5 linked regions of the Homo sapiens genome follow. The protein of the gene in region 5 purifies or fractionates together with the protein of the main gene of each other region. This does not show direct contact. Each region holds a gene or a part of one and is shown on either strand. Other genes may lie near its edges. The genes, in order: SERPINA12, LNPEP, GOLPH3, KCNAB2 and EPHX4.

The links.
Region 1: the proteins of EPHX4 (region 5) and SERPINA12 purify together in Homo sapiens (affinity purification with mass spectrometry; one large-scale study listed by BioGRID and IntAct). This does not show direct contact.
Region 2: the proteins of EPHX4 (region 5) and LNPEP purify together in Homo sapiens (co-immunoprecipitation; one large-scale study listed by IntAct). This does not show direct contact.
Region 3: the proteins of EPHX4 (region 5) and GOLPH3 purify together in Homo sapiens (co-immunoprecipitation; one large-scale study listed by IntAct). This does not show direct contact.
Region 4: the proteins of EPHX4 (region 5) and KCNAB2 purify together in Homo sapiens (co-immunoprecipitation; one large-scale study listed by IntAct). This does not show direct contact.

What each region holds. Positions count from the first base shown.
Region 1 is NC_000014.9:94,506,670-94,510,700, forward strand, and holds the start of SERPINA12 (serpin A12 precursor), read right to left. Parts: upstream 2,801-4,031; 5' UTR 2,673-2,800; intron 1-2,672. UniProt on the Homo sapiens protein: Adipokine that modulates insulin action by specifically inhibiting its target protease KLK7 in white adipose tissues.
Region 2 is NC_000005.10:96,974,062-96,977,584, forward strand, and holds part of LNPEP (leucyl-cystinyl aminopeptidase), read left to right. Parts: intron 1-3,523. UniProt on the Homo sapiens protein: Release of an N-terminal amino acid, cleaves before cysteine, leucine as well as other amino acids. Degrades peptide hormones such as oxytocin, vasopressin and angiotensin III, and plays a role in maintaining homeostasis during pregnancy.
Region 3 is NC_000005.10:32,126,762-32,129,336, forward strand, and holds part of GOLPH3 (Golgi phosphoprotein 3), read right to left. Parts: intron 1-2,575. UniProt on the Homo sapiens protein: Phosphatidylinositol-4-phosphate-binding protein that links Golgi membranes to the cytoskeleton and may participate in the tensile force required for vesicle budding from the Golgi.
Region 4 is NC_000001.11:6,087,382-6,090,904, reverse strand, and holds part of KCNAB2 (voltage-gated potassium channel subunit beta-2), read right to left. Parts: intron 3,439-3,523; coding exon 3,394-3,438; intron 1,898-3,393; coding exon 1,854-1,897; intron 517-1,853; coding exon 430-516; intron 1-429.
Region 5 is NC_000001.11:92,028,559-92,032,796, forward strand, and holds the start of EPHX4 (epoxide hydrolase 4), read left to right. Parts: upstream 1-1,426; 5' UTR 1,427-1,521; coding exon 1,522-1,752; exon of another isoform or gene 1,753-1,829; intron 1,830-3,946; coding exon 3,947-4,032; intron 4,033-4,238.

The sequences.
Region 1 (4,031 bases), on a different chromosome or scaffold from region 5:
GTTTCCATCCTGGGAGTGCATTACAATCATCCAGGAGCTTTAGAAATACCTATTTTCAGAACATTCCTCTAGAGATTTTGAGTTAGTTGATGCAGGATAAATCCTGGGTGAGGGTGCCTTTAAGAACTTCTCTCCAGGGGATTTAATGAGTACTCAAGGTTGAGAATCCCACTCCAAAGCAAGTGATTCCCACCTGATGATTCCCAGGTCTTTTAAAGCATTCAGCCACCAGGTATCAAGATGGCTGTAAAGCCACAGTATTAAGGTATTGGAACAGAGACAGACAAGCTGACCAATGGAACAGACTAGAGAATCCAACAGAGCCACACAGGAAGTCACCTGATATGTGACAAGGGCATCGCTACAGTTCAAAGGAAAGGATGATCCTTTCAATGAATGATGAAAACAACAACAACAACAACAAAACACCAGTGGATGTCCATACAGGAAAAATATAAATAGTGACTATTTTACTCAACATACAAAAATTAATTTGAGAAGTCACAGACCTAAATGTGAAAGGTATTAGATTGGACTATATGAAACTATTGGTCTTTAATATTTTTTAACCTCAAAACCCACAAGAATCAAAATGATAAAGCTTCTAGAAGAAAATATATTAATAGTAGACAATCTTTGTGACCATGAGATAGGCAGAAAGTATTAACCATTTTTACAAAATGATAAATGGAACTTCATTAACATTAAGAGCCTTGTTCCTCTAAAATTACCTAGGACAGTACAAAGGCAAGTCACAAGCTGGGAGTGGTACGTGTAATGTCTGTGTCTGATAAAAGGCTCATGCCTGTTTTTAAGCACTTCTACAAATCGACTGAAAAAAGACAACAACTTAAAAACTAAGCAAAGACATGAACAAATACTTCACAAAAGAAGATATCCAAATGGCCAATAAGCAGCTGAAAAGGTGCTCGACATCATTAATCATCAGAAACATGCAAAACAAAACTACAAGAAGAACTCACTACACACCCACTAGAATAGCTCAGATTAAAAGGACCAGCCACACGAGGACGTGGAGCAAGTGGAACTCTCTTATATTGCGGGTGGGTGTGCAAACCGACACCAACGTGTTGATTGGAAAATTGCTTGGCAGGATCTATAAAAGGTAAACATATGCTTACCCTTTGACCCATTCATTGTACCTCAGGGTATATGCCCAACAGGAAATGAGTGCTTGTGGGTTTACCAAGACATGTACTGCAATGTCCATAGCAGCTTTATGTGATAGACCTAAAGTGGAAACAACCCAGATGTCCATTTATAGTAGAGAAGGGAGAGAGAGAAAGAGATTCCTGGCCACCATCCCAGATCATACTTTGCATTTCCCTGGGTGTCCCCACTCTTCTTTGGTTTCCACAGGATCCCCAGTTGATGCTTGTGACAGACAGCTATGGGAGCCAGTGACCAAGAGTGTGAAACACTGCAAAGCCCAAATCCCACTAGAACAAATTATACTGTACCTCCAAGCAATAAGGCAAAGACTGAGTAAATGCAATGTATTTTCAGTCATTGAATTCAACTCCAATTGGGGAGCTTAATCAATAAATGATTTAAAATTAATAATAATTGATTTTGAAAGAAAATATTTTTAAGCAATCTCCGGTAAGATCCTAGGTTACCCTAAAAAGCTTCTAGTACAAAATGTTGAAAATCTTTCCACACAAAAATCTAAACAAGTAAGAAATAAAAGGAGAGAAATAGAAAATTTAGAAAATTTTTTTTTAATGGGAAGCATTCTGTAAATAGTAAAAAATTCAAGATGGCATTTCAGAACATTCGAGAAAAGGTGAACAATTCCATAAATGCTATTAGGAAACAAACAAATCATTTCAAAAATAAAATTACAAGTGTTGGAATAAAACCTTTTCATAATGTTAGAGTGAAAAAGAACTTCCTAAGTGTGATACACAAGCCAGAAACCATGTAGGAAAAGATGGCATATATGGATATACCATCTTTTTGCAACGTGTTAAAACTCTACAGAATATGTAAAATTTGGAATCACAAATTGGAACATGTGTACAAGATAGAGAGCTAATGTTCTTAACAATTAAGAGTTCTTATATATATCAATAAGTAACCACATGTGTTTCTCAATCAGCAAAAAGTAAAAAATTTGGGTAAATATGCATTGAAACATTGTGGGTGGGGGCCAGCTTTGATTTTCCTCATCTTATTTTCTTCTTTGTCTTTGTCTCTGCAGAACAGGGTACTTCCATGCACATATTAGTAGATACGGTTATTCATAGACATTATGTATTTTTCATACCAACTTTGCAAGTTTGGGTGCTGCTAGACCCATTTTTACACATGAGAAATCTGAGTTTCCTATAGCTGCACAGTTAGCAGATTCAGGACTCAAAAATCAGGTCTTCTGGTTCTGAATCCCTTTTTCCATGGATAGCTTTCTGGTAGACCATAAATGAAAGCATGGCCACAGCATCTTGGCAGCCAGCACAGACCCATGGAACTCTTGGCCAGACTGGTGATCCAGCCCTAGGGCTAGGCATGAGAAGGACGCAGAATGTCTGTCTATTTGAGTGATCACCTTGGCCCTTGGTTGTCTTCTCTAAGACAGAGAAACAGACAACACACACACACACACACACACACACACACACACACACACACACACTGCCCCTTGGACTAACCTCACCTCCCCAGTTTCTCCTTTCCCCTCAGGTCAGTCTTCCTTGGCCTTCCCCAGTTGTTGCTGATCCCAGCCTCCTAGTCCTTTTTCGGTCCTGGTCCTGCAGCCTTCAGGTTCCAGGTATGTTCCTCTAGGCTCCCAGCCCCACAAGCCTTATCTACAAACTGGGTGGACTTCTGCCCAACGACCTACTAAGCCTGCCTCTGCCACCTCCACCCCTTTCCCAGGATCAGCCTGGCCAACTGGCCCTGCCAAGTGTCTCACTCAGAGAGCAATGCGTCTGGGAGTTCCCTTCCTCACCCCTTGGGAAAGATCAGGCCTACTTTTTCTCTCCCATCCCAAATAGCAAGGGGCACTGTGCTAGGTACACCCAAGGTGCTCTGTAGATTCACTGATGAGGGCCTGGCTTGCTAGGACCTGAGTGTTTGGCACCCAGTAAACCTCATAAAAGTGAGTGCACCAGAAACCAGAGTGACACACGCCATCCCCTCCCAGCTCCACAGCCCTGATCCCTGTGATCATCTTTGAGCAGAATCGTCCACCCCAGATTCCTTCCCTGGGACAGGACAGGAATGGGTGTGGGCACCCTGGCACTGCTATAGAATACCAGCCGCCTGGCACAGATGTTCACATGGCCCTCTCTCACCTCCCAGGTGCAGCCTGGGAGCAGGCAGCCCATCCATCCAACCCCACCCCACTCCCGAGCTCTGGGACGTCTCAGGGCCTGGGCCTGTGGTCTGGGTACCAGACATAGGTGACTCATAATGCACCTGGTGGCTGGAGAAGCCATCCCTTCCTCTGGTTCTCAGTGTACTCACCTGTACAATGGGCAATAGGAGACTGCATTGGATCTGTGGTTGCCTGAGAGAGCCAAACTATTGGAAGTCATGCTGTCAATCAATTTCACTTAAAATAATATAGACCCAAGTCCGTGCTAAATGTCATTCAAGCCAGATCTAGATGCTGGTAGAAGAGCAGAACAACAGAGGATATAAAAAAAGAGCATTTGCTCAACATTACTAACCATCAGGGAAATGTAAATGAAAACCACAATGAGATACCACCTTACTCTTACAAGATGGCCATAATTAAAAAGTAAAAAATAAAAATAAAAAAAATAGATGTTGGCATGAATGTGGTGAAAGGGAACACTTTTACACTGCTGGTGGGAATGTAAATTACTACAACCCCTATGGAAAACAGTATGGAGATTCCTTAAGGAACTAAAAGGAGAGCTACCATTTCATCCAGCAATCCCACTACTGGGTATCTACCCAGAGGAAAAGAAATCATTATATGAAAAAGACACATGCACACACATGTTGCGTAATTTCAAAGATATGGAACCAACCTAAGTGCC
Region 2 (3,523 bases), on a different chromosome or scaffold from region 5:
TAACACTTCTCTTCTTTTAGACCTGGGCTGGTAAGAAGTGCTGAAGATGTTTTTTAGAGATTTGTGGTATGACAAATTCCACTGGGGTTTCTGACCTTCTCAGTCATGCTTGTCTTGGGGTCACCACTCCTTGGCCCTCTCCTATGGCACCTGTCCCTCATTCTGCTCAAGCCCCTATGCCTTCCCAACAACTTGCCTTTAGCTCTGGGCAGATGTCTTTGCTTGCACTTGTCACAGAGAACATGAAGGCTCTCTGCTGTTTTGTGCCCATGCACATGCCTCTTCTCTGTCTTTACCTCCTGTCCTCCAGGCTTGGAGGGAGAGCACCTAGCTCCCATCATTTTCTTGTACACTCTCCCTGTCCCTCTGGATGCTACGCCAGCATTTTCCCTCCCCTACTCCTTCACCTCCACATTTTGTCTTTCTTTACTGTTCCTTTCCTGCAGAAATACATGCCCAAGTTGTTCCCATCTTAAACACAGACAAATGAAAAACAAAAGGATTTAAGTTTTGTCTATACCACATTTTCCTTTAGTTTATCCCTATGTTTTTTCCTTGATAAACTACTACATACCTTCAAAGAATAGTCTGCAGTCCTTGTTTTCTTTTGTTAACTTTCCATTTCTTCTTTGGGCCCCTGGAATCAGGCTTCTACTCTCACTATTAAAGTCACTGGTTCCCTGGTTACCAAATGTAAGGGTCTCTCTAGGCCTCATTTTACTTGACCTTTCTAAAATATTTAATGCTGGCCACTTTCATCTTTATGAAAGCTTTAGGTTTCTGGGATGCCACTCCTGATTTTCCTACCTTTGGTCCATTTCTTCTCCTTTGCTGACCTTCTTCCTCTGGCCACCCAGCTCTTAAATGCTGATCCTCCCTGAGTCTCCCTTTCGATAGTCTCATTTATCTGCATGGTTTTAATGACCATATCTGCACAGGTGATTCGGAAACCTGAATCTTCCACCCAGATCACTCTCTTGAGCTCTAAACCCACGTAACATAATCCTTTTAACAATTCTACAAAATAGCACTGTTTCCCACATTTATAGGTGAGGAAATTGAGGCTAAGAAAGGTAACCTGTTTGAAGTCAGTGGAAAAGCCAGGATTTTAACGTCTACCTAAAATCAGGCCTTTAACTCTATTAATCAAACATCTCCACCTGGTTATCTGACAGATATATCCTACACTGAATGCCATCTCATAATCCTGTTCTCCTTCCTTGCCTCAAAAAAAATTAGAAAATGTGAAAGACTATATTCTCAATCTCAGTGAATGACATTCCTTCTTTTCAGTTATACAAGTTGGAATGTAAAGGGAATTGACATAGACTTTTCTCTGTCTCCTACCCTGCAGGTCCATCTAGCCCGAGGTAGTATCAGTTCTTGTGCATCTACCTTTTTGACGTGACTTGTAATCATACCCTCCTCTTTATTCTCACTGCTACTGACATAGTTAAGAACTTTATCTTGACTGTTATTGCCATTATAGTGACAGTCTAACTCACTGCTTCTCACATTATCTGAGCTGAAGAACCAGGGTTTATTGTTTCTGTTTTTTTAATTTTTAATCTGTTGCAGAAATTTTGTAGCATATAAAAAAATTAATTAGAAAAATGAAATGAAAAAAGACATACAAAAATAGCTCAGTTTTATACATTATTAAATTCAATACACATAAAAATTACTCTGTCAAATTGTCATAAAAGTTTTTGGGTACTAATAGTCTATGTATATCCTGTCCCAGATGGGTCACACTTTTGCACATTGGCACTGGTCCACAAACAACATTGAGGAATGCTAGTTCACAGTATCTGATGAAAAGAAATGTCTTCAGTTCTCTTAGATTATAACCACATGGGCCTATGTTATTTAAAACTGAAACATTTCAGTAGAAGGTTCTTTGCTTTGACTTATAGATAGCTTCTATATGTGGATTTAAGAGGTTTTAGAAAATTCCCTGTTTCTTTAGGATCCCTTCTTTCAGTAGGAATAAATCCCATCGAGCAAGGGGTAATCATGTGTTATGTTACAATTTAATGCCAAAATCAAAGTGTACTGACTTAAGAATCAAATCAACATTTTCTTAAATAGGCTTGAAGTACCTTCATGTATCTTCATGGGATACCTGTAATAAAAGTGATTTTCCCTGATTTGATATATTTAACTTGATATGATTGTGCATACAAAAAAAAAACTGTGCTTCTATATTGCACAGTGAAATATAGCAAATGGGTTGATGTGATCTCCATTTCTGAAAGATTAAAATTCTACGTTGGTATTATTCTGACTGGGAGTGAAATAATAAAAGTAAGTTATTTGGATTTAGGCAGGCATCTGACTAAGCCCTTGTCAGAAGATTTGAAATTAATGACATGCAGACAGGAGATACCAAATTGTCAAACTGTAGAATATCTCTTGGCTTTAAATGGCATGGCAGAAGAATAAAAAAACACAGCAACAAAGTTCTAAGGGGACAGAATTGAGAGATTGGAATGCTCTAAATATTAAGCTGAGATTGTACCTGGAGTTAGTTCAGAAATATAGTAAATAAAACCATGCTGTACAGAACCCATTGTTGTCTGCAGTAGGCCTGACACAGAACAAAACACATGGGGCAAATGCCTGAGAGCATAATCTTCCCATGTGTGGTAAAAAAGTCAAAAAAGGCCTTTTTAGACATTTTTAAATTAAAAAAAAAAATTAAGCTAGTCTACAGCAGTGTGCCAGGAACCAAAAAACTACTACAGAAACTTTCTAATCATTAAGAGTTTTAAAAGCAATTTTAAAAAATTGAATACAGCAATATTTGCTCTGTTAATGAAGTGTATGACCCAAAACACTATTAACTATCAAAACAGAACATACTTTTTTTTTTTAACAAGAAATTGGGGCACTATAGGAAGTTTAGGAGATTATATTCCCAAAAGCAGTATGTTAGAACCCTTCTTCTTTCATAGTAGATGGGTAGATGGCAGAATGCTAAACTCATACCTAGAAAATGATTAGAAGTTTTATTCAAATAAAAATTTTAAAGTAGCATAACTTGTATACAGTTCAGGTTGGAGAGGAGTCAGGAAAAGGTAACCTCATTGTGATCCATATGCTCCCCAAAGCAGAAATGGGTGAAGTGAAATGAAAAGAAAGTTTATTTTTTAAAGGTAATAAAGACAAAGGAAAAACAAAAAAACATAACTTTTCTTAATTTGTGTTGTAGCAAGTTAAGCTGAGGTACGGAATACCAGGTGGATGGGCATGGGAAAGGGAGATGATGACACTGCAAGCAGAGGGAAGAGAAAAGAAAAAGAGACATGTGGAGGATAGCGTGGAATAGCTGCCTGGCCTGTGCTCAAAATAGTAAGCAGTTTGGGATGGCCAGAGCATACTCAGGAATGGTATTTAGTGCTGGCTGGGATCTGACCATGGAAGATGCTTATACCAGTGCCTCTCAAACTTAAGTGCACGTGAGCACCCGAGGATTTGTTAAAATTCGTATTCTAGGTGGAGACTTCAGAGGCTGCGTTTC
Region 3 (2,575 bases), on a different chromosome or scaffold from region 5:
TTTCTCCCTAACTAGACCATGAACCCCTTAAGCCTAGCCAGACCTTTGGATTCTAAGCACCCAGCACATCCTCAGCCACAGGAGTCACTCAGACGACTAAACTGCAAGCAGTCTTCAGACCAGAGTCAGTAACCCTTAGTCTTATGTGGAAATGAGCCAAATATTATGTTTGAGCTTCCTTCCAGCTGAAGTCAAAAAGCAGCCAATAGCCAAATAAGTTTTCTATTAAACACCAGTCTGCAACTAATAGACTAAAAAAAAAAGCTTCCTGATTAATATGTTATTCCTGAAACTGCTACACATATACAGCCTATAGAGGTAGGAAAGCCTGTTTAGGCCATGCTATTATTTGATAACAATATAAAGCTAATTCTGGAAGGATACAAATTTTCACAATTTTAACCTTGCCATCCATACATATTTCCTTTTGAGAGAGAAATATTTAAAATAAAACCAAACGATTTTTCACTAAAGTGGGTTCTTCTTTATAGAAAACTGGAAGGAAATACACCAAAATATTAATCTTACTTATCTTTGGGATTATGTGTGCTCAACTTTTTTTGTGCTTTCTGCATTTTCCAAATGATCTCCAATGAACATGCAACTATTTTTATACTTAAAAAAACTATATTTTTCTAAATTAGAATATGTTAAAGATCAACCACAGGCATCTTTTTTAAATGCAAACGTTGTAAGGTCGAGATTTTCTAATACTGAGAGAAAACCTTCAGCCACACTGTCCATTACAGGAGCCATTACCCACATAGAGCTATTTAAATTAATTTAAAAATTCATCTCTTCAGTGGCACTAGCCACATTTCACGTATACAATAGTGACGTATGGCCAGTGGCTACACCCCACAGGAACAGAACATTTTCATCATCAAAGAAAGTTCTAGCGGACTATCTTAAAATTTTAAGTTGCTGTCTTAAAATATATTACCATTCAACTGGACAGAGACACAATTATTTTCCTATACTTAATACTAAACAACATAGGCCTATGATGAAGTAATCATTCCTAAAGCTGCCCTCTCATTGTAATTAGAAATCTCCATAAAATATACGAAAAAACTGTTTTCAGACACTAGTCAAAAGCAGCCCAGAACTGTGACACTTGAGTGCAGCCTATGTGAGCCTGACAACTGCCTAAGCTTACCACCTAGAGGCACGTCCCAGGCAGCAGAGCAGGCAGGAAGAACCCAAGCAGAGCACAGCAGTCCCATCACGTTAAGGCAGCAGAGATCAGAGTTCAGGGTAGCTAAGGCAGCTGCAGTGTGCAAAGCAGACTACTGGAGAAGGGGGACCTACACAGATAAAGAGGTCTAGAAATCTGCAAGGTGTTCCTTGAGTCTTGGGCTGAAAGCTAAAGCTACATGTGTTAGGGTGAGAAATTCCACAAAGCTAGGCAAAGAACACCTACCAGAAAGTGAACAATTCTAAGAGTTCAGTAGAGCTGGGAAAAATGTGATTGCCAACTAGCCAGAGAGCAAAAGCCTCACTAAAAACCAGGACATTCAGAAGGAATACTAGAAAATTCACATCTTAGTAGTAGGGCTAAACCAGTCCTAGAGTATAGACCACCCTAGACATGCCCTAATAAAGATTAAAAGCGGCCAGGCGCGGTGGCTCAAACCTGTAATCCCAGCACTGTGGGTAGCCCAGACGGGTGGATCACCTGAGGTCAGGAGTTCGAGACTAGCCTGGCCAACATGGTGAAACCCCATCTCTTCTACAACTGCAAAAAATTAGCCGGGCATCGTGGCAGTTGCCTGTAATCTCAGCTACTCGGACGGCTGAGGCAGGAGAATCATTTAAACCGGGGGAGGGCAGAGGTTGCAGTGAGCCGAGATCGTGCCATTGCTCTCCAACCTAGGCAACAAGAGTGAAACTCCATCTCACAATTTAAAAACAAAAACAAAAAATTAAAAACAAGTTGATCCACAAGTAACTTAGCTGCCTACCAAGACAAAATTCAACACTCTTTAAAGAAAGACCATAAAATTCATCACTTAACATTCACACTGTCCAGCATCGAAGTTAAAAAAAAAAAAAAATCACTAAACTTGCAAAGCAGCAAAAAAGTGACCTAAAACTAGGGGTAAGGGGGGAGTCAACAGAAACAGTCCCAGCCTGGGCAACATGGTGAAATCCCGTCTCTACAAAAAATACAAAAGTTAGCCGGGGCCAGGCATGGCGGGTTACGCTTGTAATCCCAGCACTTTGGGAAGCCAAGATGGTGAAACCCTGTCTCTACTAAAAATACAAAAATTAGCCAGGCATGGTAGCAGGTGGCTGTAATCCCAGCTACTCGGGAGGCTGAGGCAGGAGAATCGCTTGAACCCGGGAGGCGGAGGTTGCAGTGAGCCGAGATTGCACCACTGCACTCTAGCCTGGGTGACAAGCACAAGACTGTCTCAAAAACAAAAACAAAAAAACCCCCAAAAAACAAAACCAAAAAAACCCTAGTGTCCTAGTGCAAGTCATCTTAATCTATTTCTCCATTTACTCATCTATAAAGTGAAAGTAACAAATTTATCAAGCTCATAGGGCTATTACGAGGATTAAATATCAA
Region 4 (3,523 bases), about 86 Mb from region 5:
TGTAGTAATTTATCCCCCAGAGCAAAAAAGTCCCCCCAAGCTTCCCAATGGATGGTGATTGGAGAGAACACCGCAGTTGGAGTCCCCACACTGCGACTTCACTTAGCTGCAAAATAGCAGCCGCAGAGGGGAGGGGACAGTTCCACTGCGGCTCTGACTCGGAGGGCGGATCGGCCTGGGTCCAAAGCCAGGACAGGGACTCAGCCTGGAGGTGCCAGGTGCACCTGGCGAGGGGTCTGCAGCCAGAGGCTGAGTTCACCCCCTACTGAGGGGAGGCCTGCCCCCTCGCCCCCCACCCTGGACCCGGCCTCCTCTCACGGCTCACCCGGGTGCCCAGCAGGGCCCATGCTGGCGGCCTCTACAACCCCAGGTTCAGACCCTTCAGACCCCGCCCAGGCCTAACCGGTGGCGCCGCCGCAGACCACCTACCTTCCATCGGGGTGTTGGGGTCCGGGCGGTTGGCAAACACCACATCCACGTACTCCAGCTGCAGTCGCTCCAGGGAAGCTTTCAGACCTGGGGGAGGACCAGGTGGGGGGGCGTCACTGCTGTGGCTCCATCTCCACAGGCACCTGGGCCCATCCATGCCCGGCTCAGGGAACAAGAGATGGAGAAGAGGCCTCTGGCATCTGGAAGCTTCCAGAAGCTGATGGAGGTCGTGAAATGCCACGGCAGAGGTGGGGGCACATCCCACAGGGAGTGGGGGGATCTTCCCTTCAGGAGGACATCGGGGGACCACAGGCCACGTGTCCTTGACTAAATGAAGGGGAAGCCCCTCCTCCCTCAGACAATATACCCTCCTCTGAGGCCACTGTGTATTACAACAGGGAGATGACTTTATCTATCACATGTGGAGGGAGGGCTACACCTGCTGCCCGTCCCATCAAAGGCAATAGTGTCTATGGTCGGGCGTGGTGGCCCATGCCTGTAATCCCAGCACTCTGGGGGGCCAAGGCGGGCGCATCACTTGAGGGCCAGGAGTTTGAGACCAGCCTGGCCAACATAGTGAAACCCTGTGTCTACTAAAAATACAAAAAAAATTAACCAGATGTGGTGGTGGGCACCTGTAATCCCAGCTACTCAGGAGGCTGAGGCAGGAGAATTGCTTGAACCCAGGAGGTGGGGGTTGCAGTGAGCCAAGATCGTGCCGCTGCACTCCAGCCTGGGCAACAAGAGCAAAACTCCATCTCAAAAACAAAAACAATGGCAATAGTGTCTAAAACGCCCAAGCCACCCGCTGGTGCTTAGAGCAGCTCAGGACACACAGCCGGCAGAGTGAAACGCTGGGTTGGGGTGGGGAGGATGGGAGTGGGTGGCTTGCCCCGCCAGGTGATTTTCAATGGAATGATCTATTACCTCGAAGAAAATGAACACGGACAGGAAAGGCATGAAGACAATAAAGATACAGCAAGAGCCAGACACCCCGGTGCCTTGCTCCGGTGCCTGCGAGTGCTGAGCCCCGGGCTGTGTGGCACCTTCTCCTGGGCGCTGCAGGCATCCCAGCCACCCTCGCCGGGTGCGCTCTTACTGTCCCTATTGCACAGATACTGTGGCAGAGGCATGGGGCAGGGTGCCCCTGCTGAAGACCCACTCAGCCAGTGTGGGGCCAAACCTGGATTGAAACCCAGGCTGGTCTGTGGTCTGTGCTCAGCCACCGGGCTGCCCTCGTTCTCTGCAGCGTCCCGCTGTGCTACCTGGGTGGAAGGAGAAGGTCAGGCCAGAGCACCGGGTGCCCCGGGATTGGGCCCTCAGTGGGTTAACTGGGGGGGTCGGGCCCTGTGCTGCCATCACTTTGGCCTCCGAGGATGATCCCACAGGTATGGGGGCCCTGAGGTGCCCGAGCGCGTCCTCACCTTCGATTATGTGCTTCCTGGACAGGCCCCGCTCCGTCTCCGCCCTGGAAAACAGGCCGACCGCGTGTGATGTCACCAGCGGTTTTGGCACCCTGGCCCCTCCCAAAAAACGTTTACGATGCAATGTTAGACGCAAAAACAGGGTCAGCAAATGCCGTGTGGAGTCGGATTCCACTTTGGGGGTAGGGACCCGAGGCTACAGGGCTGAACTCCCAGAGGCCCAGGGAGAGGCCTGGTCACAGGGCTCAGAGGGGAGGGGGGCAGCAGCAGGGGGTGGGGGGCTTTGATTTTCAACCTAACCCGTCTGTTTGATTTGGACTTATTATTATTATTATTATTATTATTATTTTTTAAATTAAGAACACATCAGGCTGGGCACAGTGGCTCACGCCTGTAATCCCAGCACTTTGGGAGGCTAAGGCAGGAGGATCACTTGAGCCCAGGAGTTCAAGACCAGCCTGGGCAACATAGTGAGACCCCATATCTTAAAAAAGGACAAATTAATGCCAGGCGTGGTGGCTCACGCCTGCAATCCTAGTGCTTTGGGAAGCTGAGGTGGGCAGATTACTTGAACTCAGGAGTTTGAGACCAGGCTGGACAACATGATGAAACCCCATCTCTACAAAATACAAAAATAAAAATATAAATAAAAATAAAAAAATTAGCTGGGCATGGTGGCATGTGCCTGTAGAACCAGCTACTTGAGGCAGGAAGGTCACTTGAACCCAGGAGGTTGAGGCTGCAGTGAGCTGGGACTACGCCACTGTACTCCAGCCTGGGTGACAAAGTGAGACCCTGTCTCAAAAAAAAAAAAAAAAAGAGAGAGAGAGAAAAAGGACAAATTAGTCAGGCATGGTGGCTCATCCCTGTAGGCTGAGGTGGGAGGCTCGCTCGAGCCCAGGAGTTTGAAGCTACAGTGAGCTGTGATTGTGGCACTGCGCTCCAACCTGGATTACAAAGCGAGACCCTGTCTCAAAAAAATAAAAAATAAAAACAAAATAAAAATAAAAAAAAGAATGAATGAATGAATCGTAGTTATAATTCCTATGAGCCCAAGTGTGTCCAGCCCAGAAACTATGGAGCTAGACACTTGGAGACCTGCAGGGGTGACAGGCGGCCCAGGGAATTTGGAGTGCTTTGGGGGTTTGGGCAGTTCACAAATTTTCTGTTTTCTCTATAATTTTTATGATGTTACCATAGTGACCAGGAAAAAATAATCCATGTGAGTAAAAAGGAAAGTTAAGCGAGGTTTTTGTAAAAGGCAAACTCGGCCACAGCTTCTTTTCTGGATTTGACGTCCCTTAACAGGGACAGGCACCAGGCATAGCTGATGGCTGCAGAAACACCAGCTCTGCCCCTGCTGGGGACAGGAAATGGCACTGGGCCGGGGCCTGTCCAGGACAGACCCCGACCACTCTCCCTTCTCAAGGAGGACTGTCCTCCCGCCACCCCAGGAGCCTTCTAGGTCAGGGGTCTCTGGGGAGCACGGGGCCGTGGCTGCTGGGCCGGGGCTGGAAGCATCGCCAGCTGTTGCACCTACTTTCCGCCCCAGAAGATCTTGGTGGTGATGACGAGGCTGGACCGCCTGTGGAACAGAAGAGAAAGAAGGGGTGTGATAAGCCCGGCCCCTGGGGGGTCCTCCTTCATCCCCGACGTCCTCATCTCTCACA
Region 5 (4,238 bases):
TGAACCCGGGAGGCGGAGCTTGCAGTGAGCTGAGATGGAGATCGCGCCATTGCACTCCAGTCTAGGCGACAGAGTGAGACTCCGTCTCAAAAAATAAAATAAAAAGAGTACTGAGAGAAATGTATAGGTGCTAAATGATTGCATTAGAAATTGCAAAGGTCTCAATAAGTTCCTAACTCAAGACCCTAGAAAAAAAGAGCAAAATACAGTTAACCCTCAAACAACATGTGTTTGAACTGTGTAGGTCCACTTACACATGGATTTTCTTCCACCTCTTCCCTCCCCCTCACCCCAAGACAGGAAGATCAACCTCCCTTCTTCTTTCTCCTCCTCAGCTTACCTAACCTGATGATGACAAGGATGAACACTCTTAAGATAATCCACTTCCACTTAATGAATAGTAAATGTATTTTCTCTTCCTTATGATTTTAACATTTTTCTTAATTATAAAGATACAGTATGTAATACATAAACATATGTTAATTGTTTTGGTCAGTAGTAGGCTATTAGTACTTAAGTTTGGGGGAACTCAAAAGTTATACATGGATTTTCAGATGTGAAAGGGTTCAGCAACCCTAACCCCCCGCATTGTTCAAAGGTCAATTGTATAACTCACACATGCTGAAGTAAATTCAAAATTGTACAGCCACTTTGGAAACCAGTTTGACAGTTTCTCATAAAAAATGAACACTTAATACCTGACCCGGTGATTGGGAAAAGGCTTAATGAAATTCTAACAGTGAACTGGACGATAGAAGAGGTCAGGACAAGAGTGGCCATGTCGGTGCTGAGGCTGAGATACCTACCGAGGACTGTCACTCTCACGGCTTCCAGCCCTTCGACGAACTCTCAGGTGTGTGGCCTTCTGGCCAGGCTTCTGCCGCGTCACGTTGTTGAAGCATTCGTTGTATCCCTGGGGTTGCAGCTCTCTGTAAGTTTGCTGTGGCTGAACCAGGCAAGGCATAGGCGGATTTCTACAGAAATTATGATTCCACGAAAGATTTTGAGAAGAGGAAGGCTGGTATCTTTCAGAGTGCAGAGTGATTTTGCACTCTAAAGAATCTCTTTGGGTGTAATAGCATGGAAGTTTGTCGCTGACCTGTGTCCCTGAACTATGACACACGAATATGTGGGCTTAGAAATAGTTTTGCTTGATACATTGAGAACAACAAAGAAGACTGAGTGGCGCTACCTTCTTTGGTGCCCAGGATGGTTTGGGAAAGTCTCGCCTTCATCCTCCCCCACAGTTTTGCGATTTTGAAACGGGATCTCGCTCTCCGCGGAAGACAGCCAAGCTCTGCACCCCGGCCTGGCCCGCCGCACCCCGCAGGCCCGGCTCTCCCCTGCGCGCTCCGGGCTGGGCGCGGCGCGTGTGCGGAGCCGCCGCGGTGACACGGAACGCCGGCCGCCCCGGGCCGGGGGAGGCGCGCGTCGAGAGGCGACGGCGGGCTGGCCTGGCGCGCTGCGGCGCTCGCTCACCCGCTCCCGAGGAAGGGCAGTGGGCCCCGCCGCCGCCTCCCAATGGCGAGGCTGCGGGATTGCCTGCCCCGCCTGATGCTCACGCTCCGGTCCCTGCTCTTCTGGTCCCTGGTCTACTGCTACTGCGGGCTCTGCGCCTCCATCCACCTGCTCAAACTTTTGTGGAGCCTCGGCAAGGGGCCGGCGCAGACCTTCCGGCGGCCCGCCCGGGAGCACCCTCCCGCGTGCCTGAGCGACCCCTCCTTGGGCACCCACTGCTACGTGCGGATCAAGGTGAAGGGCCGCGCGGGCCTGGCGGGAGCGGGAGGGAGCGTGACCGCCGCGAGGGTGGGGGGCTCCGGGCTTCTCCTTCCGAGACGCTGGCTCAGCGTCCCCTAGTGTCCTGGCAGGAGGGGAGGAGGGGTTGGGTCCCTGTGTGTCGTGTGTGTGTGTGTGTGTGTGTGTGTGTGAGAGAGAGAGAGAGAGAGAGAGATACAGATAAACAGCACTCGGTCTTTGCAGGCACCTTGATTGGTTTCTGAATGTGGAACTTCTCTAATCAGGGGCCTCTTATATTACTGCCCCCCGGCGCCACAACAACCCAGAATAAACCTGCTCTTTTTCCTACTGCAAGGGGAAGCTGTCTCCTGTCACCCTTTTGCCCTTTAGAGCTCAGATCAGCTGTAGAGAATTGTTCCTCGTGGCATCCTAATGTCTCAGGAGGCTGTTCTTGCCCAATTTTAGAGATAATAAGAGTAAACAGTCAGTCTTTGGGAGTCATGAGTTTATTATGATCACAGACGACTTAGGTTGCATGAAACAATAAGTAAATTGTGTGTGTTGTGGGGAGGAATGCATACTTATGAAGTCAGGGACCAAAGAAAGGAATGGAATAAAAGGTAAATCCAGCCATGCCTGCAGACGCTAATTGTTCAAGCTTCCTCACAGCCCACAAATATTCTGTTTCCTGAGGCTCCAGGTGGTGAAGGGAAATAGTTCCCGTGATACACCCTGCAGTCTGACTCACAGGCCTTTCAAACCCAGCCTCATAAGAGGGGATGTTTATGTCACCAAGTCCTTATTTCCTGTTAGGAGCTAAATTGCCCCGCAGCTGAAGTTCAGAAGGGCAAGAGAACTTCTTTCTTGCCTGGGGTCGACATGAGAATTAAATAGGTTAATATTTATAAAAACAAACACGAAAAACTTAGAACAATGCCTGATGCATAGTCAGTGCAATAAAGTATCTGTTAATTAAATCCATTGCAGTGCCCATAACATTTAATCCTCCAAGACTCACCACCAATAAAAAAAGTTATTGAACCTCTAGGAAGCCATCGTGCAGCTGAGGGTAAAGTCAGATTTGTTATCTCTGTTCAACCTGAGGGGTAAAAGTAGTATAAGAACCATCTGGAATTCCATAAAACACTTTTCCCCTCGCTCTGGCCGCCTAAAGAGCTTCCCCAGAGACAGAGAACCGAGTGGAAAGAGCATTGTCCTGGGAGTTAGGACAAGATGGAGATTCTGGTCACAGCCCTGCTCTCAACCATTTTATGACTCATGTTACCATCTTTGGGCCTCATCTTCTGAATCTGCAAAATGATTCTTTCACATCTGAAAACTCAGTTGCTTGAGTTGCCTGCTATAAAAACCCAATGTCTGTGTTTAGCTTTTGGTTCTTTTTGTTTCCTAGCTTGCTTGCTTTCAGAGATTTTTATTCCTGCTGTTCCCTCTACTTTCCTCAATTCAGCCTGCTTAGTATTTGCTTGAATTCCTGACTCATTCCCATGTTTTTTTAATTTTCCTTGGGTTTTCTTGTCTCCTACATGCAGAGTGAAGTCTTGAGCACTCAGGGCATTCTCTTATTAGAAACGCACACTGACATGACATGAGCAGGCAGCAAGGGGAACAGAACATGCAACACTCAAAATAATAATGTGGGAAGGAGAGACCTAAAAATAAGAGAAGGAGGTGTGAATTATATAACTGATGGCACAGCTCTTGACGGGCAAGCTGAGAAAAGTAGATGACTAGGATGTAAACATGGCAGAAATATAAATTCAGATTAGAATTATTTACATGTCCTGCAGCATTTGAGGGAGATGAAATGTGACACATCAGTAAGATGAAAGTTACAAATGGTAAGATGAAAGTTACAAATTGTGACATTGCTTCAGAAGCTCATAATATATAAATTGACTGTACTAGAACAAGAAGAGAAGGTACTGTCAAGGGAGTGTTGACAAAGTGAATCTGTCAATTTACCCTATTAATAGGTCATGGGGTTTGCTTTTCTTTTTGAAAATTAATAAAAGTAAATATATTTCTTGATGTTAAAAATAAGGCAACTGAGTGTCATGAAGATATTGTAAATACACAAATGTTTTAAAATAAGGCAAGTTACTATTTTTTTAATGAAATGGAAATGCTAAATATATTGCTTTGTCAATCAACACAAACATCACTAAAATTCCATGCCCTCTACTTTCAGGATTCAGGGTTAAGATTTCACTATGTTGCTGCTGGAGAAAGAGGCAAACCACTTATGCTGCTGCTTCATGGATTTCCAGAATTCTGGTAAGCTTACCAACTAACATTTATTGTTACATTAAAACTTGGCTTATTTTCTCAGTTCATTTTGTGCTGCTGTAACAGAATATCACAGTCTGGGTAACTTAAAATGAACATAAATGATTTTCTCAGAGTTCTGGAGGCTGGGAAGTTCAGGATCAAGGTGCCAACATCTGACAAGGGCCTCCTTGCTGCAACATCACATGGCAGAG